Linked DNA regions of Homo sapiens: regions 2, 3 and 4 are each reported to be linked to region 1. The links are microRNA targets in miRTarBase. Many come from high-throughput screens and were not tested one by one. Region 1 holds a microRNA gene; each other region holds the end of a gene's coding sequence.

What was found. The annotated mature microRNA hsa-miR-19b-3p reads UGUGCAAAUCCAUGCAAAACUGA and lies in region 1 at 2,686-2,708, opposite strand. An mRNA with a match to its seed (bases 2 to 7 or 8) in the 3' UTR can be bound and repressed. Matches are read on the target gene's strand: a 7mer-m8 pairs with bases 2 to 8, a 7mer-A1 pairs with bases 2 to 7 and ends in A, and an 8mer does both.
Region 2: miRTarBase lists TMTC1 as a target of hsa-miR-19b-3p. Seed matches in the 3' UTR shown: 7mer-m8 at 2,268-2,274 and 7mer-m8 at 1,114-1,120.
Region 3: the mRNA of SYBU is a reported target of hsa-miR-19b-3p. Seed matches in the 3' UTR shown: 7mer-m8 at 6,864-6,870 and 7mer-m8 at 6,685-6,691.
Region 4: miRTarBase lists STOX2 as a target of hsa-miR-19b-3p. Seed matches in the 3' UTR shown: 8mer at 4,267-4,274, 8mer at 3,654-3,661, 7mer-m8 at 3,137-3,143 and 7mer-m8 at 1,156-1,162.

Annotation. Positions count from the first base shown.
Region 1 is chrX:134,166,998-134,174,709 of GRCh38, forward strand. It overlaps MIR19B2 (microRNA 19b-2), which reads right to left and starts at 2,769; the gene lies at 2,674-2,769. It overlaps MIR106AHG (miR-106a-363 cluster host gene), which reads right to left and starts at 7,091. Exons shown (of 2, transcript XR_007068340.1): 1 at 4,672-7,091; 2 at 2,153-3,355. MIR363 (microRNA 363) reads right to left here and starts at 2,455; the gene lies at 2,381-2,455. It overlaps MIR92A2 (microRNA 92a-2), which reads right to left and starts at 2,615; the gene lies at 2,541-2,615. It also overlaps MIR20B, MIR18B, MIR106A and the pseudogene TIMM8BP2. RefSeq lists an enhancer at 5,156-5,963.
Region 2 is chr12:29,501,479-29,509,190 of GRCh38, forward strand. TMTC1 (transmembrane O-mannosyltransferase targeting cadherins 1) reads right to left here. Exons shown (of 18, transcript NM_001193451.2): 18 at 1-5,508. The coding sequence ends at 5,368. Among named protein-coding and RNA genes, the nearest start is that of OVCH1, 7.6 kb to the left of the region's middle. RefSeq lists an enhancer at 2,108-2,277.
Region 3 is chr8:109,567,918-109,575,290 of GRCh38, forward strand. It overlaps SYBU (syntabulin), which reads right to left. Exons shown (of 7, transcript NM_001099754.2): 7 at 6,061-7,373. The coding sequence ends at 6,989. Among named protein-coding and RNA genes, the nearest start is that of EBAG9, 31 kb to the left of the region's middle. RefSeq lists an enhancer at 6,904-7,133.
Region 4 is chr4:184,016,608-184,024,306 of GRCh38, reverse strand. STOX2 (storkhead box 2) reads right to left here. Exons shown (of 4, transcript NM_020225.3): 4 at 781-7,218. The coding sequence ends at 7,023. Among named protein-coding and RNA genes, the nearest start is that of STOX2, 120 kb to the right of the region's middle. RefSeq lists an enhancer at 6,620-7,119.

The DNA.
Region 1 (7,712 bases):
GGAAGGCTGTCAACCCATTGTCAGATCAGCATCAGGCTGTTATCAAGTCTGTTGGTCCTAAAAAGTAAAAGATGAAATGTTCAAAAAAAAAAAAAAAAGAATTATTGGATTAGTCTAACTTGAGCAAATATAGAATCAGAATTTTTGAAGCTAGAAAGGGTCCTCAGATCATCAAGTTCGGCCCTAACTTTAGGTGAGGGAATTGACTCTAGTGGGCAGAGTGGCCTACCCTAAGGAACACAGCTCCTCCACACAAGCCTATTAAAAGTGGAAACTGCAATAACTGACTGCATACTAGCCACGTTAGGTAAAGCACCAGTGAACCACTAGGACAATAAATTTGTATTATTAAAGTGGAGGTTTGGTGGTGTTAAGGATTACAACAAATAAGCTTTAATCCCCTCTTTTACTGAGCTACTTTATTAAAGGGCGGGAGACCCTTTTCTTTGCTGCCACATCAAACTTAACTATGATTAGGCACCAACAACGTAGTCAGCACTAGACAACACAGGAAATACCTGTAGTTATTTATGTTTGTATAATTGCCTCAAGCATTAGTCACTTTTAAAAAATTACACACACATACTTAATACTGGACGACAGAATTTACTACCCTAAGTCTCTTTTCATTAAGATTTCACTTCATCACTAACAATTAAAATCCATCCCCCCAGCCGCCACCACCAGAGAACTTACTTAACCCACATATCCTTGAGGTAGACCAATGTTATCACTGTATTTCCCCTAATGAGGAAATTGAAGCCTTAGGCAACTAGCTCAAGATTAAAATGCAATTCAGAGAGAGTTCCTCTTACTGATTAAAATGGACTGATGTTATGAGGAAAAATCAAAAGGGTTTCAAAATTAGAAAATTCCATGGCACCAGGAAGTAAGAATGACACATACTGATACCATCTTTTAGTTTGGCAGCACCTTTTTGATGAGAACTAAATGTTCATGTTGGCAGACAGTAAAACTACCACAAGCCTCGTTTCTTCATTTGCCAAATACATGATGTTAAAGATTAACATTAAAATATGAAACATAGAACTGGAAAGCAAGCCAGTCCCTGCTTCGAGTTCTTTTAATTTTATGAAGTTTAAAATAAACAACTTCCTTTGTTAACTTTGTCCTAGAAGCTGTCGTTAGCTGTTTTCGAGCAGTGGTTCTGCAAGTATGGTGTCTTGACCAGCAGCATCAGCTCCTAGGGAAAGGTTAGAAATGCAATTCCTTACCTGTAATGCCAGCACTTTGGGAGGCCAAGGTGGGTGGATCTCTTGAGGTCAGGAGTTCGAGACCAGCCTGACCAACATGGTGAAACCCCGTCTCTACTAAAAGTACAGAATTAGCCAAGCGTGGTGGCGCACGCCTGTAATCCCAGCTACTCAGGAGGCTGAGGCAGGAGAATCACTTCAACCCGGAAGGTGGAGGTTGTGGTGAATGAGAGATCGGGCCATTGCACTCCAGTCTGGGCAACAAGAGCGAAACTCCGTCTCAAAAAGAAAAAAATAAAGAAATGCAATTCCTTAGGCCCCATCCAGACCTATTGAATGAATCTCTGGAGATGGGGTTGGCTGGCTGTGTCTTAGTAAGTGCTAAAGTTTTAAGAACCACTAGAGGATCCAAATAACTTTTGGTGTTCAGTCTCAAACCACTAATTAGCTGCGCATGAGAAATTTCTGCTTTAGGTTAGTCACCCTATGGAGCCCCCGAACCCTAAATATTAACAGTAGGCCCACATCCAGGTTTCCATCTGCTAGACTCCAAAGCAAGGCAGCAGCCATCCCTCTCAGTAGCCCTGCCACCAAATCCTCTTCTCCGAGAACCCCAAAACAGAGTTTGATTGACAAGTTCATTCTTCTCTCCTGTCAGACCTCAAAATGTGCCCAGTTCCTTAAAGGTATGTGTCCCATTGGTTTACAACTCTTCATTCCCTTCCTAAGAATGAGCACGTGTACTAAAACAAAATTAGTACATGTCATCCAAATATTGTCAGGGTAATAAAATTCCTAAAATTAGGCATCTTGGTGCTTTATGTAGATGCAAACTTGAAAAGCAGCTATGTCCAAGTTTTCCTTTAGGATCCTCCCAAGAGATATTTTACAAACTCCTCTAGCATTGCTAATTATTTTTTTTAAAAAAAAAAGAGTCATTTTTTCAGATCTATAAATTTCATTTATTTTGAGGTTCATTCACATTCAGTAACAATCTGATCATTCACCAAAGTTCCAAAACACATACTTTATAAATTAGCTATCATAGTTTTTAGAAATCCAAATATATTTCAAATTATTTTTTAATAGCAGCAACTAGAGAAAGGATTTTTTACCATCTAGCTTACTGTAGCGCTGATCAGGAATGTCGCCAACAAAGGTCCTGCGGTTTACAGATGGATACCGTGCAATTTTTCTCCTATGATACTCATCAAAATTGCATCGTGATCCACCCGACAACAGCAAAACAGATCATTTTACAATGACTAAATATCAGAACTTACGGCTTTTAAAAGTTAAAATAAGAAGACGATAAAAATCCTCCTTTCTTCCACAGGCCGGGACAAGTGCAATACTTTATATAGAACACAAGTAATGCAACAAATCCCCACCCAGGGATGAATGGGCATGAGTGCTGGAGATACGCATGAAGGTGTGTTCACACAGACGTAGGAAGCACACATTATCACAATCAGTTTTGCATGGATTTGCACAGCCACATATACATATATACGCTGAAATGCAAACCTGCAAAACTAATTGTAAGTAGCAATGTCTTTGAATATTCTCTCCATCAACAAGAGATTTGTTATCCAAGAGTACTGGAAGTGCCCATACTACAGTAGAGTCATGCCAAAACTACCTGCACTATGAGCACTTTGGTACTACTAGGACCCAATCTTATCCTCTGTACACAACTGTACACTGCACAGTCCCCACCATCTGTTCCCAACAAACAATAAAAAGGCAAAAAACAAACCACTGAAATGTGTCCTATTCAAATTACTACTCAAGGCATACTTTTAAAATGCTGTATATTAGGCAGCCTGTGCCAGAAGGGGCATTTAGGGCAGTAGATTCTAAGCTGCTTCACTAACTGCACTAGATGCACCTTAACACAAGAGACACATTATAAGAAGCAGCTCAAAAGCATCAACTACTTAATTATGCACAAACTACAGTTCTCAGTAGCCATTGACTAAATCACCATGGTAATGTAAGAAGTGCTTACATTGCAGTAGATCTCAAAAAGCTACCTGCACTGTAAGCACTTTTACATGGCCAAGGCCTATTCCTGTAGCAAAATTTTAAGTCTTCCAGGAGCTCTTCTTTTCCGTCCTCACAGATCCATGCAGACTCACCTGGTTAAAACAACAAAACAAACACACACATATTAGAAACTAAACAAGTAAACTACTAGTTAATATTCCTGAAACAGGCTTTCCTTTGGCTTACAGAGTCTAAGCTAGGTTTTGTGGTTTCAACCAAATCCTGAGAAATATTAATAATCTCAATTATTTACACAGAATTGAACACGAATAACACTGGCAACTGCAAAAAGTCCAATTCTTATGTATAAGCAGATTTTGGACTCCCCCTCTCCATCTAAGAAAATTTGATATCTGCATCTCAGTAATTTGCAGGCACATTCTATCCACCCTGATTTTATAAGAGGAGGACCTAGAGAAAGGAGCATGTAAAACCCAGGATGAGTATTCGAGTCTTCAGATCATTCAGAGCTTTTGGGCTCCATACGGAAAGTGACTGTTAGATTAAATGAATATTCCCAGCCCCCACCCCATTAATAGAAAATGAGAGAAATTTTAGAGCTGGTTTAAGAAACACAGCCTTACAGTCTTCACATAATGCACAGATGGCTGAGAGATGTCACATTTTGATCTATTTCAAAGGGCTCTACTTCTGTTTAAACATTTATGGACCCATTTTCTCCATTAAACCAAAGTAGGCAGATTAGCTCTTCTTCCCTTCATGTCATTATCTTCCATAAGAAAACCTTCTCCCATTTCCAAGTGCTTATTTTACCTAAGAACATACAGCAAGGAAGTGAGCCTCTATGTGAAAAAGGCTCACAGGGTCCCCTATCTCTTCCATGATGGGGTAACTTTTGTTTAAAAGAAAAACAAAAACGTTTGGGACAGAATCTGTAATACGTTAAACGAGTGAGGGAATTTTAAATGTTGAACTTTCGTCACGATATCTTATGCCACTAAATGAGTCTTTAGAAGTCTTTACAAACTAAACTGATTTATAAAACTTATACATCAATCTGGAATCAATTTTCTATTAGGGAAGAATGGATTTAGTATAGAAATGAGAAAAATAACATTTTTCCCCTTAAATTGGGTTTCTACACCTGTGAAGATTTCTTTTCCATTAAAAAAAAAATACTCCAAACTTGACTCAAAATGCATAGTATTTGCCAACCCAACCTGGCCAAACTGAGCCCCACAGCCATCAGACAGGGCGCCCTTCTAGTTACTACCTTTTGCTAATTAGCGGTTCATCTGGCATCCCTCGCGCACGCTGGGCAGTCACTCTCCAATCCCCTTAAATTGCAAATAATAATAATAATAATAAGGAAAAGAAAGAAAGAAGTCCTTCCCTGTACGCCTTTGTGGCTCCCTTTTGCCTCTTCCCGCGTCTCTCACACCCTTACCTAATGCTCCCGTTGAAGTCCGCGAGCAGCCCGCGCGTCCAGGGTGTGCTCCAGCTGCTCACACCACGCGCTCCAGTCCTCGTGCAGCCTCAGCCGCCGCCGAAATTAAAGAGAAAGAAACAAAGCATCATGGGAAACGGAGTTCTCCATTCAAAGCACCAAAAACGCGCCAAGCCCACGCCTCCCTCCCCCTCCATTCCCGGGTTGGTGGGATAGAAGCCAAGAGGGAGGGGAGTCCCTTTTTTCCCTCCACGTGCACCCCCTCATTTCACACCCTCACCACCAAAGTTTTCCAGGAACCTAAAGGTCAACGGTGGAGAAGAAAAGGGGAGTCGTTTCCCGCGCGCTGCCCGCTACCCCTCAACCGCACTCTGGTACTTTGCTTTTCTCAAGTCCCGCCCGCTCCGTCCCCTCCCACCCAACCAGTCAACTCTACCGGATCACAGCTGCCCCAACGAAGGGCTCCCTTCTTGCCCAGCCACCCGCTCGGGAAACCGCGCGCGGGACCCAGCTCCGGCCCGCCCCTCGCAGGTGGAGAGCGCGGGGATCCCGCACGGGCCGCCCTCTCCGGGTGTCCCCTCCACACGTATACCCAGTGTCCCAGCGCGCAGCTCGAGCGCTCCGGGGCCGGGTGCGAGCGCAGTCTCCCGCGGAGCCAGAAGGGGAAGAGAAGTGAGAAAAAGCGTCCACTAAATGGATCAAGGCCGCGAGCGCACATCTCACCCCAAAGCGCCCCTGTCCAGAGCGACGCGGGGCCACGAGCCTCCCTGCCACCACTTGAGGAGCGCTCCGTCCCCTTGGCCCTCTGTCCGTAGCTATATCCCTGGGAAAAGCCCGCCCCTCTGCCTTTAATAGCCCAAGGAAAAAAGCCCGCCCCCGCCCACCCGGCCCGCACAGGAATTAGGAAACGGAACCCCCACCCCGCCAAAGCGAAAACCCCACCGAGCCCCAGTTACCCACGGGCGGACCGCAGTCGGCATTTTCCCTTCTCTCTTCCCCCAAGCTGGAGTCCTTAATTAAAGGCGCGCCTGGGACAGCGGCCCAGGCAGAGGCCGTGGCCGGAGCCGGTGCGGGTGCCACCGGCATCCGGGCCAGGATGGCGCACTCACTACCACCTTGTCCCATCTCGCTCCCGCGGCGCTCGCCTCAGCCCCCCACCGGAGACAGACGACGAGGCCCACGGAGCCGTGGGACAGGGGTGTCCCCCACCCGGCGCGCGCATGCGCGCCACCTCGCCGCTAGATTGAAAGTGTTCCTAAGGCCCGAGGAGGGAAGAAATAGAAACACGACTTACTCTCTGCACATGTGAAAGTTTTAACCCCTAGCACCTTGTGCTACTGTTGGGAGGCTTTCGCCCTTGCCAGGCGCCCTCTTCACCCACTAAATCAGGGTTTCTTGGCAGGTATCGTTAACGGTAGCAGCCACCGAATACACGCGCAAATGTGCGGAAGATACGGTGCAATTATCTTGCTTTCTCCTCTCATTCCACCGCTAATGAGAACCAATTGAGGGCGGGCTGCTTCAAGGCCAAAGCCCGACAGCGCTCTGTAGAATAAAATGATGTCTTAGTTTAAGACGCACAATCAAAATGGAATTAAGCATACCAGACTTTGAACACCGGGCAAAATGAGAGACAACCGGGCTATATACCTTCTCCGCGTCCCTGGCGGACACAGGCGCAAGATGGGATTTGGGGAGCGTGCGGGGGTTGGGGGGGTGGGCGGGGGTGTGCAGGGTACGAGGTTACAAATCAGAGACCAGTGAGCACGCTGGGTCGGAGGAGGAAAGCCCTGGAAGGCAAGCGGGGGGCAAGGAAGGAGGGAAGGGGTGCAAAATGAAGCCGGACCCCTCCCTTTCCACCATTGTTACCAGGGTGATTGTGGCAGCCCAAAGCCCAGAAGAGGACAAGGGCGCCATGTGATTCTCAACCTGGTGCACTGGTGCACAGTAGTAGCTCAGGCAAACATTACAAAAGACTGGCCTCTCCCGCCCCTGGCCCGCGAAAGAGTCCAACCTGAACTGCCAGCGCCCCTCAGGAGTCAGCGGTGGATGCAACGAAAACCACAATCATTTCTCCAACGCGAGTCACTCGCACAGGTGGGCTTCCTCCCCTTTTTCATGCAACAGACCTTGCAGCCTACCCTGGCACGTCTGCGTGATACTTTCTGGAAACTACGCAGCCCGAAGTTTACTACCCAACCAGATCCCTCCTGTGAGATTGCACCGACTGCAATGCAACTTTCGACCTTTAATGGTAACGACTAGCAGTGGAAAGAAGAGGAGGGGGAGGGAAGAGAACTTAGACCCGACTTTAAGAAGCGTTGTATTAAAGCAAGATAAGAACAGTACCTTTGAGCTGGAGCAAAACCTGGAGTAAAAAAAAGGGTTTTTGCGAAAGTGGCGCGAAGATAATATCATGTGATCCGACCCCAGGGCGTCTCCTTCCCCTTTTGCCAAACTCCCCTCCCCTCGAAAAAAGGGGGGTTGGGGGAGCTACATCCGCTCCTCACAAACTATTAGCATAATTAATTGTGTCCTACAGCTGCAGCCAGAGCTCCCGGGTCAATGAGTAAACATATCCTCATCCTCTTCAACATCAGAACAAAAAAACCCATTACCCTGATTTTGGAAAATGTTCCCAAATAAATCTCATTATCTTCAAAAGTCTTTATTTGGTATTCGGAGTCTATGTGTCTTGGTTGGAGAGACAGAAGAAGGTTGGAAAAGATGAAATCATCCTATTAAAGGGAACAAGTAGAAGTAACTCCCCAAGAGTGACATATTTAAGTAAAGGTTTTCAAATGGAAATACCGTGTTGAGGGACTTCACTAGCTTAAAATTTTCCAAAAGTTTTAGCAGTTCATTAAACAAGACATCCTCCCAGTCTTCCTATTCGCCACCCCCCATCTCCCACCCCTCCTCCCAGTCCTCCTTCCCTTTAAAGCTAGAACAATACCCGGAATAAGGTATTTTGAGATTGCTTTACCAGGATATTTTCTTGTTCTTAATTTTTTTTAAGGGTTTGCAACATATAGAATGTC
Region 2 (7,712 bases), not on the chromosome of region 1:
GTGGCTCTTCAGTGGCAGAGCTAGAACTAGAACTAGAACTCAGATGTCTTGATTCTTGGGGTAGTGTACCCCTCCTATGGACCAGCAAGATAAATAACCCCCAAAGGACATCACACATACTGAAAACTACCAAATTTGTTACATATATATATATACAACGTGTACTACTGAGAATGCAAAGAAACTACTGGATTTTTAGAAATAGACATGTCTCTCCAGGTAGGAGTCAATGGTGATCTATGCTTACAAACCAATAATGACCATATATTGTGGTGGATGCTGATTTTATGAGTTACAGGCCCTAAAGATTTTAATTGAAAAGATCAATTAAAATCAATATTTTAATATCAGCCAATTGATTGTTATAAAGATCTTATCAATTCTGTTGTGCCACTTTGATTGATATTAAACCATACTTTTGATTGCAGTTATTTTCTGTTCTCTTTAAATTACATGGCTACAAATAAAATATTGAGGGAAATAATATTTTTTGGAAGAACTATTCAGCATATTTTCCTTTTGCATCAAAAACGTCAAGAATAATCATAAAATCTTATAATATTTCTCTATATTATTTTTTGACATCCTAAGCTTTTATCTTATTCAACTGCAACCTCAATGCTAGATTTGACAGGTACTTAATTCTTTTTAAATGTCAAAAGATACCATTTAAATAGCTAAGTTAACCTATATTTGGGAGATACCAACATATAATCAAATCAAAGTAAACATAATTTGGAAACCAGGAACAAAAATTTTTAAAAAATCACCTCTCACTATATTTGTTTTGAATGTCATTCCTAATATCCTCTAAATTTATTATTTTAAGAAGGTGAATCCACCACAAATCAAAGCAAAAGTTTTTTTTTTTTTCAAAAACAGATTCTAACAAGTACAAAGAAATAATTAACAAAAGCTCATGTGTGCCCAAAATAAAGATAGAGATGTAGGCATAAACTCTATACCATGGACACCTTCTATGAGTCACGAAAATATCAGTCATATATATACTGGCACTTAGTCTGGTACATGCAAATTTCAAGGCAATTCCTCTCCATCTGAGAACGAGGAATTGTGTCATTTTAAGGCCAAATTGCAGTCCAATTGCCACAAGTGCAAAACCACCCCACATAACCACCTATTTGTAATCATGGAATGATAGCCTCAACCAACCAATTGTGCCATACATCATTGTTAAGACTTCTTTGGCTCATTTTAGTATAGACTTAAAAGTAAAAATTGCAAAAGATGATAAACATCTATTATTTTGTAAAAGTTACAAGCTCCCATTCCAGGTGTCAGCCCTGTAGTGGTTCTCCAGCCTAGCTGCACATAAGAAGCATCACCAGGACAGCCAGGATGATTCAACCGAAGATTCCGAAAGGTCCTCAGGTGATTCCAAAGTGCAGCCCGTGTTGAGAGCCACTACGTGTGAGGGAACAGATGTCAACTATCAGCTGAATGTAGCTCTTCAATCTGAGAACCTGGAATGTTTTACAATGAAAACAGGAAACCCACATTTGCTCTGTTTCGCCTCAGAGTACAGTTATTGTGGGTCAGTTTTGATAGGACAGTTTGGATTTTCTCATTTAGTCTGACTGAAAGGCCGTTGCGCAGAGGCATTCGCACAACTGCTGCAAAACCCTGCATCAAACTAGGTACCACCTATTACAAATTTCAGAATCTTATGCTAAGGGTTGTGAAGTACTGCAGGAGGTTGGAATTAAAGTGCGACAATTCTCTTTGTTTTGTGATAGGCTTTAAATTAAACAACCCAAAAGGATATATCTCAGGATTCTCTATAATACAATTTCTTTTCCTCCAAGGCATTTGCATCTTTGGTTTAGTTCACCTATGTTGTATCACTGAAACATGTTTTATAAATACTGTTAACAGATTGAAAGCATCTGAATCATTTAAAAAATCCTGAATGAATAATTCATAAGATTAAAATAAGCTGCTAAAGCCATTCTTGTGGCTTCTACATCAAAGGATACAAAAAGAAATGGACACTTATCAGGGATTTTGAAGGCAAGGAGAACTGATTCTAGGCACAAAAAAAAGGAGAGGTTAGATGGACTGGAAAAAGAGGGGTGATATATACATGAGGAACTCTAAATGTAGCTGGAAAAAAATAGCAAATCTGTTCAGAGTAACACAATCATAAAATGAAACTCTGATCATTGGTTCAAATGTTCAGCCAGGCCAAAGCAACTCCTGTTTTATCCTCAGCCATCCTTCCTACCCAGGACCTGTTTGGGAACCCAGTGCAAAATGAAAGTGTGGACCTCTTGCTCAAAAATTATTAATTATTAAGAATTTCAGTTGGACATGGTGGCTTATGCCTTTAATCCCAGCACTTTGGGAGGCAGAGGTGGGCAGATCGCTTGAGCCCAGGAGTTTGAGACCAGCCTGGGCAACATGGTGAAACCCTGTCTCTACAAAAAATACAAAAATTAGCTGGACATGCTGGCATATGCCTGTAGTCTCGGTTACTTGGGAGGCTGAGGTGGGAGGATCCCTTCAGCCAGGGAGGTCGAGGCTACAGTGAGCCATGTTTGTGCCACTGAACTCCATCCTGGGTGACAAAAAGACAAAGTGGAACTGTGTCTCAAAAAAATAAATAAGAAAAAATCAAACAGACATTCAACTGAGCTCGGGGTGCTTCTGTATGCAAGGCCCTGTGGGACTGCAAAAATTGCACATCCATGAGGCCAGCTGAGCTCCTCCATTTCAAGAAGGTGCTATCAATCCACACAGCAAGTATACTTCCATTAAGGGCAAACTAGATGCACCTCTATGATGAACCAGGGCACTCCATTTTTATTATAAAGGTAAGTTCCATGTATTATTTCATGTTACAAGGACCAAATGAAAATAGTTACAAAATACACTTAATATCATTGAAAAATAGTATGTGATCTATTTTCTTATAGGCACTGTTTTTACTGTGAAACTATTGCATTGGCCACATCTCAGTGAAGGTATTCACTTGGGATAAAAGTATCTGATCCAACAAATAATTACTTTTTTAAAAAACAGTGCTTACTTTTAGTGTTCAAAAGATGCCAGTGTGTGTAGACAGAGTGACAGTGAGAGAAAAAGAGAGGAAGGAAAAGGGAAAAGGGGTAGGGAAGGATGGGGGAGATAGGAAAGCACCTACAGGAGGCAGAGAGTTTCCTGAAGGTCATGTGATCCTTTACCCTCAGAAACTTTTAGGCTGAAATCACCATTTCTGTTATTCCAACAAATGTACTCTCCTACCTTTATTAGCACTTCAAGTAAGGCGTAATCACTATTCAAAATTTGGGGCTCAGTCTTTTCCATTAAATTTTTAAGCATGAGTTTTCATTACAGATTATTCTGAAAAGTTGTAATAAAGTCCTAGACATTCACTTTTTTCAATTTGAGGGTGTGGTTGTTATTTTACAATAAACACTGGAGTATGTTTCTTGACACTAGGACTATGATTTTGGGGGAAGAATAGTTCTTAATTAAGGTTGTGGATACATTTATGTTATATAACATGAAAAAACTATTAGAAACAAATGGTTGTAGTGGTAACATATACATTCTTGGATTACTGTTGCACACAAAGAGATGCATGCTAATTCAAATTCTGTAATCATTTTCATTTAAAATACTCCCTTCGCCATGCCTTCCGAAGAAGTTTTTCTTGTTTATTTAGACTTACCTTGACAAAACAAATAATAACACTGGGGTAGTGCTTCCTGATACTGGGTTGAAAGAAGCAGAAGGCTATTTTTACCCTGCCCTGGCCTGAGCATGCGAATTATGTGAGCCTTTAGGCTACTATGTCTGTGTGCTACCTGGCTCAGCACTATAAACAGTACTGCCTGGAGTGTTTTGGTTTTGTCTCTAATGATGAAGACCAAATTAGAAACAGGTGTTCCAATTTCTTCACTTCCAAAATATACTACTGCCAAAAAACTGAAGGCTGATTCCTCACATCTCTTTAGCAAGTGAATAATCAACACAAAGTTTGGGAGGGACTGTTAAAACTTAACTATTTTACAATTTAGATTTACATTTTATAAGATCAGTTTTGAAAGCTGATATTAAAACCACTTTGTACAGAGAAAAAAGAAGAGTGTGTATGTATATATTAAATATTTTATAAGTTATGAAATAAATAACACTAAAAATAAATGTCAAATTGTGAGTTCAACTTTGCCTTTCCTATTTCTTAAATATAAATATATATTTAAAATTTGAATTTAGATCTTTACCCTAGATTTTTAGAGCATTCTCCATAATATTCTCAAAACAAAGAATTCTGGGTATTAATCGTTGATGTTCTAAGCCCAGAATTCTCATTAAGCCTAGGAACACAAATAAATAGAGCTCTTTTTCCATCTAGTTAGAATCTATGAAGATTTCTGTGATACATCATAAAGGTTCCTCAATGGTTCAATATATTTTTCAAAAAAATAATAAATCTCATGATGTCTGAACATTAAGATAATAAAGTAGGACATTTCTCTTAGTTAATATCTTTAATTTTTTATGTAGAATATACTATTTTTTTCTCCACCAAAATAACAATATATTTGCAGGCGGGAACATGTATGATTTTAAATGCACTTTTGAAATCTTAGAGTAGAACCACCACTCTAGTAATACTTGTAATAAAATTAAAATAGTTTTAAACACTTCCATAAAGAATTAGGGGTGCCCAGCTCCTTGATTTCCCCCTAGGGATAAAGATATCCATGTACAATTCCAGGAGCTTCCCTGTAATTCCTCAAAAAAGCACTAGTAAAACTCTTAGGAGGATATTAGATAAAGCTCACTTAGCAATAGCCCTTTTTCCCCACATATTCTGGAAGGTTCTACAAAAGCTATTAGATACTCATTCCTGGTTCTGGAAAATTAAATAAGCCAATTCTTGGTAGGATTTTCCAAATGGCTTACCACAGAGGATTTATCCTCTTTTGAAATATTTCATCCCATAAAGAATAGAAGCTCTGCCTTCATAGCATTTCAAGCTTCTGTATTTCTGGGACAAAAAATGTCTAAACAGAATTAGATCTCCAGGTCTCAAAAGCACAGAGATATATCAAGAGAAATCTGGAGTTAAACCAAACAAAAATCTGTAAAATGTGTAAATGTCATTCTCCTTCCCTCTCAGACCTTCTTGCCCTTGTTTGCTGTTTTCGTCTTCTTCATGGAAAAGCAAGTCCTTCAGCACTGGGCTACCAGCAGATGTCCCAAAATGTGTCACCCTGAACTCGGAATGAGAGAAAATCTCATTAGTTGTGCCCCTGCTGATGTGAAAGCAAGGCTTCCATCACTCCCCTTTCAGAGGCACCACATTATCCTATGAGGTTGGGTCAGACGGTGGTGCTATGTTTGATCCTTTTCTCGAACTTCTTGTAATCGTTTTTCTAGGCGATCCAATTTGGCAAGATTTTCCTTCAGCAGTTTGCTGTCTGGAACCAGCTGTAAGGCTCTCTCATAATAAGCTCTTGCAGACACATATTTTCCCTGGGGGTGGGAAAGAGGGAGCAATTACATTCTGATCCATCACAAAACTCTCTCAGAGAATGAAGAGACTAAGAAACTGACCCTCTGCCCAGTTTTACATTAATGTTCTCATATGGAAACTCTGTCTGTATGTGTAATTTTATCCTTGTCTATTGGTGCTTTTGAAGACTCCATTTGTTTTAAGCACTAGATCAGTTGCAGAATGTGAAAGAGGAGAGTTATACTGTAAGGATAAATGGCAGAAAAACAGATTTTCAATTCTACTAATGCAGGGTGTGAGGTTACCATTTCCTGGTGTCCTCAGGGGGCTAGTACTGTTCCTTGTAAAATGGAACCATGGCACAAAATTCATGTTAGGGGAATGGGGTGGAGGGGATGGGAGAATGAGAGATGAGAAAATGTTTTTAAAACTGCAAGAAGAATGATTAAATAGTTTATGTATCCACTCTCTCTGTTTAGTGATAGCAGTTATTCTAGTCTTCAGCTTAAAACGTAAAAGTAACTTTTGCCTAATAAAGTTTTTTGCAATGAAAAGACTTGATAAGAATGTGAAGTCAAATTTTTTACTACTGCAGGTTTGCAGCAGTATGCATTAGCTATATACTTTTAGTGCAGTATGGTATGTGACTCCTGACCTACTAAACACAACTGTCCCCACCCTCTGTTGGCTTCCAACTGTTTTGTTTGATTCTTCAACTAGCAACCATGTGTGCCTGGTCCCAGAAGGGGTCCCTGGCAACTCAGTCACAGCTATTAGCTTTTTTCAGCATTTTTTCTGCTTCTGGATGTATTACCTCCCTTATTCGTTCCACCCTCTTTTAGATCTGTATTCTGCAAATTCTCAGAGCTAAGATTGTTGGAGTTCCCCCATTAGAAAAAGTATGAATTTGTTCCATCTATTCTTAGTTATAGCTCCCATGTGGATAAACACCAGTGACCCTCTACATTTCCATCACAATTAAAAATTGTATCTCTTAGAGTGAAGACACCATGTAGCAACAAACAACTAATACTTATCCAGTGCTTACCTATCTTCCAAATACCTGTCAAAAGCTTAGACACATAGTGAGTGCTCAATACGATACTAACATTACTGTTATTAATGACTATCCAGGCTCTGTATCAATAGTGTCTATTTCTTACTGTATTTACTGGTCATATTGGTGAAAAGGAAAGTGGAAATGACAGCACAAGAAATTGTACGTTAGATATCCAGGCACTGGCATGTACAACAAAAGGAAGTATTAACAATGACTCTGATAAGAAGTTAAACAGATTGCTGAACAAGTGGGAACTTGCATTTGCTATATTCAATTATTATTTTTTTCAATTCAAGGATATGTCTTCCAAATGTCTTCTGATTTTTATTAGCCTTAGCACTTACATGCAGACAACTATACATTTCTGGGTCTAAGAGTGCTCTCAAAATCTGTTTTGACTGCAATTGCTTTTGAAATGATTCTTCCAGGAGGCTCCCTGAATGTCAGCCCCAGTGAAGTGCCTTGGGATCTTATTCTCTGATCACCAGGCTTCTCTGTCCTTTCACACAGAACGCAGTTCCTTTTCTCTCCCTCAAATTGCCCTTTTCTTCACTAAACTAGAAGCTGTATTTTTTTTTTCTCTGTAGCCCAGGCTGGAGTGCAGTGGTGCAATGTCAGTTCACTGTAACCTCTGCCTCCCGGGTTCAAACAGTTCTCGTGCCTCAGCCTCCCGAGTAGCTGGGACTACAGGCGTGCACCACAACATGCCCGGCTAATTTTTGTATTTTTGTAGTAGACAAAGGGTTTCACCATGTTGGCCAGGCTGTTCTCAAACCCCCGACCTCAGGTGATCTGCCTGCCTCGGAATCCCAAAGGGCTGGGATTACAGGTATGAGCCACCGTGCCCAGCCTAGAAGCCCTATTTTAAAAAATAATTATATCCTTTAAGTCAGTATCTCCAATTCCCTAGATGCTAGGTAAAAAAATCTGAATTATCCAGTTTCCAGAACTGTGTTCACTTGATGGCCACTAGTCACAAGTGGCTTTTCCAATTTAAATTAGTTACAATTAATTAAAAATTCAGTTTCTCAGTTGCACCAGCCATATTTCAAGTGCTCAGTAGCCATGTGTAGCTAGTGGCTACTGCCTCGGACAGGGCAGCTACTGAATATTTCCATTGTCACAAAAGTTCTGCTGGACAGCACCATTCTAGAAAATGCATAT
Region 3 (7,373 bases), not on the chromosome of region 1:
AACAAATTGCCAGAGTTTGCAAATCTTTTAAATGGAAATGGTGGTTGTAAGGATTGAGACTGTACATAAGTGTTCAGTATAAGCACTCAATAATTGGAAGTTGGTATGAGGCCCTATATACTTCCCACATCTCACCATGCAGTGGTATTGGCAGCCCCTTCCCTGCAAAGAGTGGGAGAAGTTGCCTAATCTTGCAGTATTTTATACACCTTTAAATTGAACTTGAAATTTAGCAAGAAAGAAAACATTTATTGTAAGTCTGAGTCTTTGACTAATTATATCAGTGACTCTTAGCAATCCTGTAAGAGATACTACCCTTATTTCACATATAAGGAAACCAAGGCCTAGAAAATAAATTGTGTACTTGATTAATGGAATGGAAAATAGCAACCTTAGAGAGGAGGTTATAATAGTGGTTAATCAACAGTCTATGTAGACTATGATTTCTAAGGCCTCTCTTGACGGAACTATGAGCCGCCAAAATGCCTTTTAAAGTTTCTCCTAGTTCTTAATGAAGATAGCATTACAAATTATAGTAGATAATACCCATTTGTGTTTTCTAATAATTTAATAAATATGAAGAAAATTAGCTTGGTTTTTATTTTCATATAAATGACAACTGTAGTTGAATATCAGTGCCATATAATTTCATATTTGCAGTTTATTTGGGTCAGATAAGGCAAAATGAAATTGATTTATATTCACACAACTGCAGAAATAAGCCAATTAGCTCACTTGATTGGGTCATAATTATAATGAGGTCAAGGCCACAGGTTCTATGCATGTGCAGATCAGTATCGTACGTAGAGTCCTTCCTGCTACAAACTGTCCCTGACCTTGTCAGTTATTAGTGAGTGTCTAGGATTTAGTTGAGAGAATGAATGGCACAGAAGAAAACATCTCCTTGTATAGAAAATTCAAAGGACATACTCTGATCAGTATGTTGACTTATTCTTGGAGCAATTTTGGCTCTTTATAAGATATTAACTACTGCCCATAATTAGTTTTATTTGTTAAAATATTCAAACCTTAATTTGAATTCTTATACAGCAATGCCATTTCCAAACCTGTTGACTATTCCTGAATAAACGCAGTGCTTACCTATTTTATGGAGAAAACACCATCGTCAGATATAGTGGCCTCTGAAATTAACTCAGCATTTTATTGCAGTGCTAAGTGAAGATGTGCATAAGAATATAGATATATTTAGCTTGTCACATTTAAGTTTAAAATGTGAAAATACAAGTGCTTTTTTTGCTTTGTGAGGCTCTGCAGTGCATCTGAACCTCGTAATTACCTAATCTGTCTTGATTAGAAGGAGCCCTTATGGAGTGAGACAGTGCACGGGCGATCATTTTTAAAACTTGTCCATGTACAGCTTCCAGTGGGAGATGTAAAAATTATTGTCAGCTTTCATTTTTCATTTTCTGTATACAACCAACAAGCTAGAAATAATGTGCTGGTTCAGAAGAATTAAAGGTCAGTTTTAAATGCCAGCACCTATTGTTTACTGTAGAAAGTGAGGCTGGCAAACCATTTCAAACATTGTGAGCTACTTTAATTGCGAGGAAGGGGAGAGAGGGTCTTAACTGCACCATCAAATTAGAGAAGCCATGATACCTACCTTTAATATTCACAAGGGGAGTCAGACTTGATTTTATAATACATTGTCATCTTATATGTATCATGATAGTCCCAGATACTTACGTGGCTTCTATAATCTGAGGGAGAGAGAATGAGTCCTCTTCATAGTTAGACCAACAAAGCACTGGCAGACAAAATTTTGTAACAAAGGTTTAGAAAACAATTTTGTTAAGCATTCCTTATTTAGGGCAACAGAGAAACATATCTTCAGCATTAACCAGAGCAGTATTTCAAGTAACAGTTTTCATACGTGAGATCTTACATGAACTGGAAGTTTTCAAAGAACCTGGTATATAGGGAAATGACATGCAAGCTCTTCTCAGAAGTAATACCAGGACCCCCGCAGGGGGCCAGGGGGAGGCCAATGGCAGGGCTTCCCGCCTGTGCAGTCATTTGTATGTGTTTTATATATTGGAGTGTTTAAAATACTTATTAAAGTTGTACATCTTTTAACAAACTTGAATGCTTACTAAAAATATTTCAACCTTCTAACAAAAGGTCTTCTAAGTAGAACTTAAACCTTTTTTAAATTTTAAAATTCTTTGAAGTTATTATTGTAACCATTAGTTATAACAATCATTATGATTGTGGGAAAATCAGTGGTCACAGCAGTGCATCCAGTGGGTTTAAAATAATTACCTGATATAAGCCTGTTTTATTCTATTTGGACTTTCTAATTGTTTTTGTTCAGGACAATTGAGAGTTTGTTGACATTCTTTCAAGATTTGTTATAAACTATTAATTTCCTAGGCTACTGCCTCATTGTGCACATTTTGCCGGCAAGATTGGAAGGAAATAATATTTTTTCAAGTGCTCACTGACCCAAAATGGAAATGGGAAACTACCCCAAATCTTTTAAAATGAAAAACCCTCAAGAGGAAAACATATCAGACCCAACCACTACTTAGGCAGGGCCAAAGATTAATGCAAATCACAGTCTTCCTTTTTCTTCTGCCACAAATGTCAGAAACGCTTGGCATCTGAGTGCATGGCATTTTTTCCCCTCTTTTCTGAACAGCTCAACTTGGAAAGGTCAACATATCCCTTTGGGAAAAATCTTTTCTTATAAATTGGAATGTTTGCACACATAACTGTAGGAAATGTTTAACATTTGCTTTGATGGGACAGCAATTTGTTCAATAGAGTGGAATTGTTCTCGTTTTTTTTTCATTTTCCTGCCTGTTTGTACACCATAGGCACTCAAATTACTGAAAGCAACTTCGAGGCACTTCTTTCTATGGGATCAGATCATCCTGTCCACAAAACCAGCCAATGCCTTGGGCTTCCAAAAGGCAAACATGTTCCATCTTTTATTTACTCCAAGGGACTCATTTGTGAGAGACTGTTCTGAATAAAAGCAGTAATTTTCCACAGACTATACAGCTGAAACCCTAAAGAAGCAGGAGAGGGAGGGTGAGGGGGTGTCCAGTGTCTCCAATGGGTTGTTTGAATCTTTTGGTTTATGTAAAGGAGGATATAGGACATTAAGACAATAAAACTATTTGCTATTGGTGATCAGCTACATCCAATCTGACAATTAATAAATATTTGTGGTTTGTGGAGAATTCTTTCTAACCAGAGCCTATCCTTTCCCTCCAACTTGAATTGATGGAGAACAATGCTGAGTTTGTGTAGTTATATTTGTTTCTATGGAAACAAGCAGATACTCAAAACAGGCTTATAATCTTTTTAAAGTAAAAATGCTTTTAGCAATGACTGCAAATAAGCACAAGGAGGGACTTTAAGGAAGATACCAGTATCTAAGTATTGATCTGGGCTGGACTACAGGAAGGGACCTGAGTCAGCATGGCTCATTATTTCAGGACACTTCCGATTATTCAGAAATAGTTTCCCTTCCATTTCAAACAAATCCTTCTACTGCTGACTAGAGCTGCAAGACATGTAAATACAAATGTGTGTGCTTGAGACACGTGTGTATTCCAATAGGAATGTCCTATCAGAGACAAACCATCTCTCCTCACACACACATTCCCATGCCCTGGATCCTATCCCTTCTTTTCAAAGGCTCTCCTTCTTCAATTAATTTATAATTTTTTCTTATTTTTTCCCTGCTAAGTCGTTAATTTGTTTTTCTTCATTGGCCTAATAACAAAAGCATACAAACATGTTCTGTCTCTTCTCAATATTGAAAAATTAACCTTTGACCTTATGTCTCCTTTTAACTACCACTCAATTTCCTATTCTCCTTAATTGTAAAACTTAATAAAACAAAAAAATTCAGCAGCACATATTTCACTTTCTCGCTTCCATTCACTCTTCAACCTGCTCCAATTGGCCTCCCATCCCCATTTCTCCAAGGAATGATGTTGACACAGTCATTAAGACCTTGCTGTCAAAGCCGGTGAATATGTAACTATTCTCATATTAATCTCTTGGTGGGACTTCAACACAATTGACTGCTCCATTCTTCTTGAATTACTCTCTTCTCTTGGTTTTTATACTACTAATCACCTAGTTTTGCTCCTACATTTTGGGCTGTCATTTCTCTGGCTGTTTTGTTGGTTCTTCATCCTCCACCTCTATCTAAATATAGAAGTACCTCAGAAATCCATTTTTGACCTTTTTTCCTTCTCTACACTCTTCCTGGATGACCTCACTTGTTCCCATGGTTTTAATTACCACACAAATGCCAGAAAGGTTCAATGTTATAAGTCTAGTCCTGACAGCTCCCTTGATTTTCACATTTATATATGCAGTTACTCTTGATATCTTCACATAGATGTTTTAATAGACATCTCAGTTTTATTTTTCCCAAACTTGTTTCTCTTGAACTCTTCCCATTCTGAGCAAATATGGCCGCCATTGATCCAATTGCTCAAGCCAAAAACCTGAGTCACCCTTATTTTTTTTCTTTTCCTTACTCCACATTTAATCCATCAGCAAATCACATTAGTTCTATCTTCAAGCTATATCTGTAATTTTTCAACTTAAACTCTGTATCTACTTCCACCTCCAAATTGGCATCATCTCTCATCTGGACATTACAATAGACCCCTAAATGGCGTTCTTGAATAAACTGAAACCTCTACCATGGTTTGTGTGGCCCCATATGAAGCAGCTTCTTGTCTACTCCAACTTTCTCCTTCCTTCTCACTCTGCTCCAGCCACACTGACCTCCAGGATGCTCCTGTCACACTCTGAGTCCTTTCTGTCTGACGGCCTTTGCATTTGTTCCTCTTGCAACAAGATTTTGTCCCATATTTTTGCATGATTGACTCTTTTTCATCCATTCCCACCAATGTTATTTCTTCAGAGATGTGTTCCTTACTTTCACCTCTGCCACACTTGGTCAAAATACCTTATTTCCTTTGAGGCATTTACCACTATCTGAAACCATCTTTTGTTTATTTGATGGCATGTTGTGTCCCTCACAGACACAGAACATAAGCTTCCTGAGGACAGAAACCTTTTCTGTCTCCTTCACTTTTTAAGACCCATCCTGGAAAGTGCCCAGTTAGCATCGGAGTACCTGGTAAATATTTGCTGGATTAATTAATTCATTCAACAGCAATTTTTAGACTTCCCACTATGTGCCAGGTGCTGTACTAAGTTATTGTTAAATTTTAATTTATTTGTAGAAAATTAAAATATTTTAAAAATATTTTGTGGGTACCCAGTAGGTGTCTATATAGGGCTCATGAGCTATTTTGGTACAGGCATGCAATGTGTATGCAATAGTCACATCATGGAAGATGGGGTATCCATCCCCTCAAGCATCCTTTGTGTTGAAACGATCCAATTATATTATTTTAATTATTTTAATATATGCAATTAAATTATTATTGATTATAGGTTCCCTGTTGTGCTATCAAATTCTAAGTCTTATTCTTTCATTTGTTCTAGGTTCTTGACATACAGCTGTGAACAAAACAGAACAAAGATCCCTGCCCTCATGGAGCTAATATCTCAGTGGGAAAGATGGGTAATAACCAAGGCATTGTAAGTAAAAGGGTGGTATATTTAAAGGTGTTAAGTGCTATGGAAGAAGAGTTTCTGGATGAGAACTTGGGGTATTATCCAGCCTCTTTATCCTCCCTTTGTGTGGCAAAGTAGAAAAGGCATTTGCTTTTGCAAACACTTGAAATCGTGGCTTCTGGAGATGAGCTCTGAGATCCTGAACATTTTTCCTCTTTGAGGCTTAGTTCCCTCAAAGATATGTGTAAAATACTAATCTCAAAATTTTGGTGTAAGCACTAGATGAACATAGATCAAATACCTTCTCATCCCTTCCCAGCCACCCACCCTCATCCTATCATTCTGGGGAAGGAAGCTATATGGCACTACCATATTCTCCCTCTCCTGAACACCTAGCATGCTTAGATCAACCCAATGTTCCTGAAAACACTCAAGATGTACTTACTGCATAAACATATGGACAAAATAGTGTATGGGCAATTTAAAAGTAAACAAATCTACTTTTATTCAGAAATGATGCTTTTTAAGTAAGGGTAGGAAATCTTCATTTTCTTTAATAACTAACTCTTTTTCCCTCTTCCTAATTTAATTCAATTTTTACAGACCCCCTATTGATAAAGATGTAAGATCTGCTATTCATTGTCTTTCTTATACATAGAAGTAAAATCACAGAAATAATTATTATTTTATGGGAGGATAAAACATTTATTTAAATGGAAACACTAATCTTTATTTTCATCATGCTGAAGTGTGTGGTTACAATTTCCAATAAAACACTATATATAATAAGCAAAATAAGTTAGTACATTGTAAACTTATGCACAGTTTCATCAATTAACAGTTTAAGAACAAACAAGCCATTTAAGACTTTGGAGCTACATTTAGTAAAAAATTGCAAACACTCAAATCTTATCAACCCCAAGTAAGACAGTAAAGAGCTATTCAAGACTTCTTCAAACCAATTACACAAATACATGTTTATTTTTGGTTACAGTCCCCTGCTATGCACAAGACCATTGGAATGCTGGAACAATTACACATTTTAAAACGGCAAAAAGCAAAGCAAGGAGATAACATGCCAGCCTTAGAGAAGCTGTCTTGAAAGTGCAAACTGCGTTTTCTCTTCCTGAACCACTAGGATAAGAACGGGTACCTCAGACGACACGGCAGGGTCATGAGCATGCTTTCTATACCCCACTGGTGGGACATTTACTGGAACCAGGTCTCCATGCCTTTGAAGATACCTCCGGTTTTAAACAGTGAACAGGCTTCAACTAAATATAGTGCAAATCAAATACCAAGGAGCAAAACGACAGAATAGAGACTGTCACAGATGATTGACTTCCTGTTTCTCTACCTGGCACAACCCACATGGGACACATTGGCACACGGTAACAACAACTTCTATTTAGGTTTTGATACGGAAGGCGGTGCGGCGGAGCGAATGCAGGGCAACCACGCAACAGCCCCTGAGCAAGGCCCCGATGTTATACACAGGATCCGTTCCCCCTCTCTGAGTACTGAATGCCCACAGAACCGTGGGGACCACGGGGGCAGCCACAGCCAGGAGATCCACCAGGAAGCTGCTGCTCCAGTACTGCCTCACGACGCCCCCGCGAGCCAGTGGGATGACACCATCCAACCTCTCTTCCACGCAGGCTGCAAAATCCAGCTCTCTCATGAGGCGGTTTGCATGAACTTCTGCATCCACATTGGCGTAGGGGGTCTCCACGGGAGACAAAAGGATGGCTGAGTTTGGATTTCTTGGAGTTAAATCAACCACTAAGGCAGAG
Region 4 (7,699 bases), not on the chromosome of region 1:
CTTCCTAACTTCATGCCTGAAAAAGGAAACGTCTGTATTGAGACAGTTTAAAATATATAGACAAACTTACGCAACAAAATACAACTTGTTCTTCAAAGCAGTTACCTTGGGGTCTCCAGACACTTATCCGTAGACACTGTCATTGTTCACAACAATTTTTGGAAGTCTACTTTGGATATTGCCTTTATAAGAAAATCAGGCTCGACTTTATGGCTCATTGTTTTTGACTGAGAATACCATTTCCTAGCTCCATCATTAACGGGGCAGCAAATCCCTTTGGTTTGAAAAAGCCCATTTTCTACGGGCAAAGATTTGCCACAGTGAGAGACTCAGAAGAATGAATGACAGCTGAAGGAGAATAAACATGGAGGATTCCGAACCTGTGCAAGTGACTCACTGGAACCTGTGAGCAGCCTCCTCGTGTTTACTGGGGAGAGGATCCCATCCACTTGGGAACAAAAGCTGAGACATGAGTGCTAATGAAAAAGAAACCCCAGACCTAATCACATCACTTTATAATTTCATATAGAAAATGTAGTTATAGGCATCTCTCTCACTCTGTTTTAAATTCAGTTACCTAAAAATGTGATTTTTTTCCCCCAACTTTCATGGAAAAAGAATTTTGATCAGAAAATTTTCATTTTTAGTTGTTTTAACTCAGAAGCTCTAATAATATTGAGTAATCACAATGTTATAAAATCCTATTAATTGAAGAGAGAAGTCAATTAACCTCACCTAAAATATTTTCTCTCAAGTACCAAAAAAAATCCACTTAAGACATATAACCAAATGTTATTTAATATCTTAAAAAGTAACACAATCCAAAATGGATATTTCACACAACACTACATAAACAACATGAACACAGTATCACCATAGGGAGGGACTTTCAAATATAGACTTACAAAAATCCCTGTCCTTTTTTTTCTTTTAAGTTATTATACTAAGCATGACAAGTAATCATCATTTACAGTATGGTACACTGACACGATAAAAACCATGTTACAAATGTGCTGTTATAAATCAGTAACATTAGGGAAGACATTTCATGAACTGTAATTATTTCATATGAAATACTATACAATATAAACAGAACATCCATCTTGGATGACCTTTACAGCAACCAGAGACCAAGTAATTTAAAATTTTTTTTCAGTGCAAACACATTTTATTCAAGGCAGTCTTGGCTGCAAAACTCCTTTCTAACATACAGTAAATCCCACTTGCACGTCTTAATTCATTTACCCTAATGCAATAGTCACATTCAGTCACTCAGAGAAAGATACCTGCAGAATTATGATCCCTTTAAACTTGACGTTTAAATTTAATTCTCTTCTAGAACGTAGTATCTGTGTCAACTGCTCTAAGGACTTTAATTTGTAGCTGTCAATACTTGCATGAAGGTGACCCTAGGGCAGCTCTATTCCTAACCCAGCAAGTGTGCACGATACTGCACAGTGTTCTGCCCTTCCAATGTGGAAACCGTGGCGGTGTGTCAGTATCTAGGTGGGAGAATGGAAAGGAGGACCTCGGAGGAAAGGAAGTGGAGGAGCTGCTGCATGTGTACTTCATGATTAGTTTCCCGGAACTGCAGAGGACAGATATTGGAGGAGATCTCAGGTCTCACATTTGGTACCTCTTCTTGGTGGGAGCAAGGGAACAAGTTTACTAAGACCAGCCAAGCTTCTAACCTTACATTTCCAACCTTCCAGAATCATCGCTGCCTGACTTGAAACACCCCATTCCCTCCTTGGCATGATGTGTGTGTGTGTGTGTCCACATTTGAAGCCAACAATTAATGATTACAGCCCTATAACTGATCATGTACAATCGTAAGAAAGTTTAGTTCCCCCTTGAGTCTTGTAGAATCCTGAATCTTGTGAATCATCAACTGTAAGTCATAGAACTGTAAAATCACAGGACTGTGTGTTAGGGGAGCCATCTCTGGGAATCTCCTTGTGGGCTGCTGCTGCAAAAGATGCAGAGAATTAACTCAATAGGAAGGTGCCAATGTCTGTTTGAAACACACAAGGAAATGTAATAATGAATGTTTTCATATATGTAATTTATGAAACATCGCCTGAATAAAAATCTGTGGGAAAATACTGGATGTATCCTTAATACCATAAGACCTTCTGGGAAAGGAATGGGGTGACAGTTGATTCTATCTCACTTGGCAAAGCTCAGACCAATAGTAATCTTTGTCCTGCCCACATTTTACTAACCCAAAGCAAAACAGTGTTTTCCATGCCTTTTGCATTCATGTTTCCTGTGTTCTAGCTCCCCCAAGCCCTAAACATGTGCAGAAAAGTCACTCACTACCAGAAGAGCCCTGGATGACGTTGACAATGGGCGGGATGGTCCTGGGGGAGATGGGGGATAGAAGAGATTGCTCCTGCTTGGGCCCACTGAGGTCTGGCAGCACGTGGCTAGTTGGTTCTGTGACTGGCCTGTGGTGACGGAGGAGATCCCCATCAAAGATCATCTATCTCCTAATTCGAGAAGACACTTAGAACTGGATCAGCTCCCTCAGAAATCCAGCTCCTCCAAAGTAGGGCTCGATATATTGTACTGATTTTCTATGGTGCCAAGCAGCACTGTGAAGAGTACTTGATAAAGTTTTTAATTAAAATTTCTGTTTCAGCACCTTCCACTGCCAGGAGCAGTCATGTTCCTGAAAGCTGGTGATTTAGCACGGGAACTATAGCAACCCAATATGAAACTGTAAACAAGGGTGTGTCCAGATCTGCTTCTGACTGCAGTGGCATTTGGGTGGATCTGTCAATCACCCGCTTTATCCATTGATACCAGTAAGGTGTGCTGAGATGTAAAATTCCAAACACCCTGAACTTTTTTTTTTTTAATGAAAATGGACAAAAGTGTCAAGATGTATTTGTTTTCTTTGACTTTATTAGCACACATCAGAAAAATAGCATTGTATTTTGTGATTTCTCATGATGCTCTATCAAACAGATAGAAAACAGATCATCAATAGCTGCCACTGTGTTCCTGGAGAATCTTAAGTCACTCCTTTTGTTAATTCGTTGTAAGTATGCGTATTACAAAGATGACCTGTCTTGTGAATTGTTTGTAAATCTGAATGCTTTGGAAGCACTTTGAGATCCCAAAGTGAATCGTGCAAAGTCATTATCGGTTGTTGTTGGTTTTTAAATGAAGCTCCAAATACTGCCCATGTTATAAATGGCAAGACTTTCAAAAAATGATCACTATTGTATTATGAGCAATATGCTTGTAATTTAAGTTAAAAACTTTATTTTCAAGTACACTTGGTGGTGATAAGTGGTTTATCCTGGGTAGAGTTTTGCAAAGCTGCGCCAACCTAAAAAAGGAACAATGCTTCTGCTTCCACTGAACAGGTTTCTTCTCCCCATGGTGACTGCAATGTAATTTAAATTTACATTTTAGATGCTGGTTGGGCTATGAAAAAGAGGGACCTGGGAACAGCTGGTGTTCAGATCATTGTTACTCCGGATTAACTGTGAATTGATGCTTCCTGAACCTGACCTTCACAACATCAGAGAAGAAGTAATTTGTTATTTTTATCCAGCTAGTCTCCATTCACCTCTTCTATTTGTTTTCTCTATTTGATGGCACCCCCCCCCCTTTCATATGTTCATTATGGTCCCCTGAGATGTGCAAAATATATATAATGGAATACAAATTATTTAACAGAAGTTGTGGAATTCACAGCACAGCTCTTTTAATTAAAGTGGAGTTTGGGCTCGACATGGTAGCATGCGAGTGAAGGCAGAGCCCGAAGTGCTTCAAGCTTGGCAGTCCACATTGCTTGTGTGTCTTCTGTTACTGAAAACTTAGACTTCAAATCAGATTTCCAAAAGAGTAAATAGCTCTTTCAATTACGTTCACCCATTGGCTCTTCGCCAGAGAACTTTTAACAGGAATGGGTGGAGGGCGGGGGTGGGCACAAGAATTTTTAAACTTCCGTTCATTCCTAACAAAATCGAGTGCGCTTTCGTGGGGAAGAGAGGAGAAGACAGGATTACATCTGAAAGCCAAACAGCGGCGTAAGAGAAAGCCATGGCGATGGAAAGTCATGAGTCCACAGAGGCAATCACTGACACACACAGCACGCCATGCCCTAATGTTGAAGGAAGTGTTCAACTTTGCTCTTCTGAACGATACACTTTAACACACGGCTGCCATTTCATCAAATTTATGGAGGTAGTTATATGTAAAAATAAAAATTACCATAAAGTAATATGTTGTATCATAATAATACATAAGTGTGCAAAATGCCGACAGATGTGTTGACCCTTTCACAGAGATTCAACCAGATTCAGTTTTGTAAACCTTTCAGCTGCTAAACCCTAAGACTGGATAAGCAGTCGTGTAACACAAAGCTATGATTTTACAGGAGGAAAGGGATACTGGCAACGCCTGGCGAGGCCCCCACTGTTCCGGGACCGAGAGCCTCACCGTGACCTCGAATGACATTTGCAATGTGCTGCCGGCTGCCACTCCTCCCCCATTCAAGAATCTCGATCAGATTCAGGCAGGAATATTTTTATATGCAACATCTGCTTACATGGTATCACCTTTAAAGTCCATCATTTCTACACTAATGGCTGCTGGTCTAAGGGAGTTTTTAAAAAATTATGTACCCCATAGCATCAGGCAAATAGTGTACATATTTATTTGAATAATGTCTTCTGTAAACCTATATCTTGTGAAATATCAATAAATTCCTATTTTAAAGCTTCTCTTAAAGGTAACGCTTTCCTTTCCTGTTCACACAGTATTCGATTATTTCAATGGCTACTTTCAGAGGATCAGCTAGAGGCTGATGTGTTGTTTCAATGGTTATATTATTTATGAACTGAGAGTAGAAGAAAAATTTGAGAGCAGGTTTTTGGAAAAAATGAATTTAGACAAATATTTAGTAACTGTATGATATATAACTCCCCAAGGGAACCAACTATGTAGTCTATTAGATACATGATCATTCCTTCTGGACATATTTAAGCAATGAGACAAACAATGCGTTGAGGCATGCCTTGGAGGAAATAAGGCATGAGACTGAAAGCCAACTGGCTTAAGCATTTCAATGGTATGGGAGTTTACTAAGAAACATGCTGAAGTTTCACTATAATAAGCAGAAAAAAGGAATTTACACCAAACTCAAGGAGTTCAGTTTGACCCAATGCAACTTCCAAATAACTGAAAAACTATGAGGGAGCATTTAAAGGTTTCAAGAATGAGTCCAACTGTGTATAGGACTGGATTCTTTAAACAGATTGCTAGTGATTAAACCTCATACAAAAACAGATGCGTCTCACAAATCATATGCCAATTACTGAAATTGGAGGTGAAAATATTCTAGATTTATTTTGGGATATATATATTTTATGGTGTATGGCTCCCAACAGCACATGCCACTGAACTAAATAAAACTTTATGTCAGAACACTTACTTGTGTCATATGTAACCCTTTTGCAAATAATATTCCATTACTACAGATCTGTCCCACTGTTCTCAGAAAATAAAACATGGGAACGTTGGAATGTCTCCTTGCTATAAGATGAAATTATTGGTCATCCCTTTGCTGCTGGGTCTTCTTTGTGTTCAACATGACATTGTAAACCAAAGCAAAATGTTAACAAACCATTTGGAAATAAGTTGGTCTAATTAACTACACATCCAGCTAAAAACGCCTCCTGAAATTGGTTACAAAGTATCTGTAAACATTACTCTGGCATAGTTCATGTATGCATAATTGTTATTCTGATAAATTTTAGGGGAGTACAAATTCGGATTATACCGCACTAGCAGAATGAGCACATTCTGTTGTTTATTACATGGGCACATGTATATTTCTAATCAAAAATTATTTTAAAAGTTTTCTCTATACATATCTTCCCAGGAATAAAAGGCCTGAAGTTCAACACTCCCTAAATTTGCTCTTTCCTACAACCACTAAAAATTATCTCCCACAGCCTAATTTAGGCATTCTATTTAAAACTACATAAAATAGATTTATGTCCTTCCATTAGAAAGAATAACATCCTCAGGCCCTACTCTTCATTTGTATCACAAAGAACATTTTGCTTTTAAACAAACTAATTATTGTATCTATTAGAGTAAGATAGGGTCATCCTAAGTATCACAAGGAGGAAATTCTCTTCCTTCAATATTTGAGTAACACCTTTTACAAGTCCACATCACCTTTTCAATCACCTAATGCTGTGCCCCAGCCAGACTGGAAATTGCTTTCCTTTGTCCACTTCAGATTCAAAGGCCTATATTCCTGTTTGTGATCACGGAAGGTTAAAAAAATCAGACAAGCATCTGTGACACTTCAAAACAAAACCCTGAAAACATTCACTCCCAGTGATCTCCATTGCGACCCCTTCTCACACACTTCCATGGGCTCCTGCAAAATAGTGTCACGAAAACTCACAGTGAAAAATGACTGGTGCATAAACAATTCACACACAAAGGGCCGGGGTCCCTTCTAGTTAGTTTGGCATCTATTTCCCTCAAGGTGGACCCTTGCATTTGACATTTCGTGGTAGCTTAGTTTTGTTTTTTGTTTTTTTTTTTTAAATTTTTTTTGTTTTGTTTTGTTTTTTTTTTTTTGGAAGTGTCAAGGATCAGTTCTGTGGCACCGTTTAACCACAGACTGGGAGCAACACGCATCTGTGGCATTTTAAAATGGAATTGGCAACTGCATGACATTGAAAATGCGTATTACACTTACAGTGTCTAGACTTTCCTATGTGTGCTCAGATACAATTAGTGAAGCAAAAGTATACATATCACCCCTACTGTTACTCAGTTGCTACAGAGCCATAAATGTGAAAAGCAATACTCTGAAATAAAGATTTTTTGTTTTTTTGCCCTAGCCCTACTTAGCAGCACAGTTTAAGTAAACACAAAAACTGTGGTTGAGATGCTTGTCTTTCCAAAGATGTAAACATCAGTCCCAGTGTCGTAAACTTTGCTGTATCGAATGAGACAGAAGATCTGAGGCAGAAGGACAATCACACGCTAGTAACAGAAGCTTGCAAGCAGTTGGAAGGTTTCTGTAGCTTCTCAGCTTCATTTGTCGGGGGCTCCGCGCTCGCTCGGAAGTTGAAGGCTGGACCAGCTCCACCATGGGCCGGGCTCAAAGCGGGGTTCTGACGACGGTTACTTTCAACAATGCTTGATGTGTTGGAAGCCAGGCTCTCCCGAGTACTAAAAGAGCAAAAAGGGTTTGTTTTGTTTTGTTTGGAACATAAATAATTATAAATTGAGCCCCAGAGGAAGAGCAAATGATGTCGTTAATGGATTTCCTCTGTTGGTTCATAATGTCATATCAATATACATCTCGACTGATTATTCACATCTGCCTCTCCACCACTGGCTCCAGAAGCTTCCACAGACATGTAATAATCAGCAGCACACTCAGTGAATAAAGGGTTTTTAAATAGCTAAATGCACTTTGAAATGTCTTCTCCTTTTTTTCACACTCAACGAAACGACTTCAAAATTTGAGGTGATAGCTAGCTATCACAGTGGTTTTTAAAACAGATACTCATAAATACACCTAAGTCATGATTTCATTTCAGGCTGGAAATTCACTGGCATAGCCGCTCCTGAACACACTCGATAATTTTATCCTAATGATTCCATTTTCATTCTGGATTAGCAGATTTCGACTGTGGGGGACTTGAGC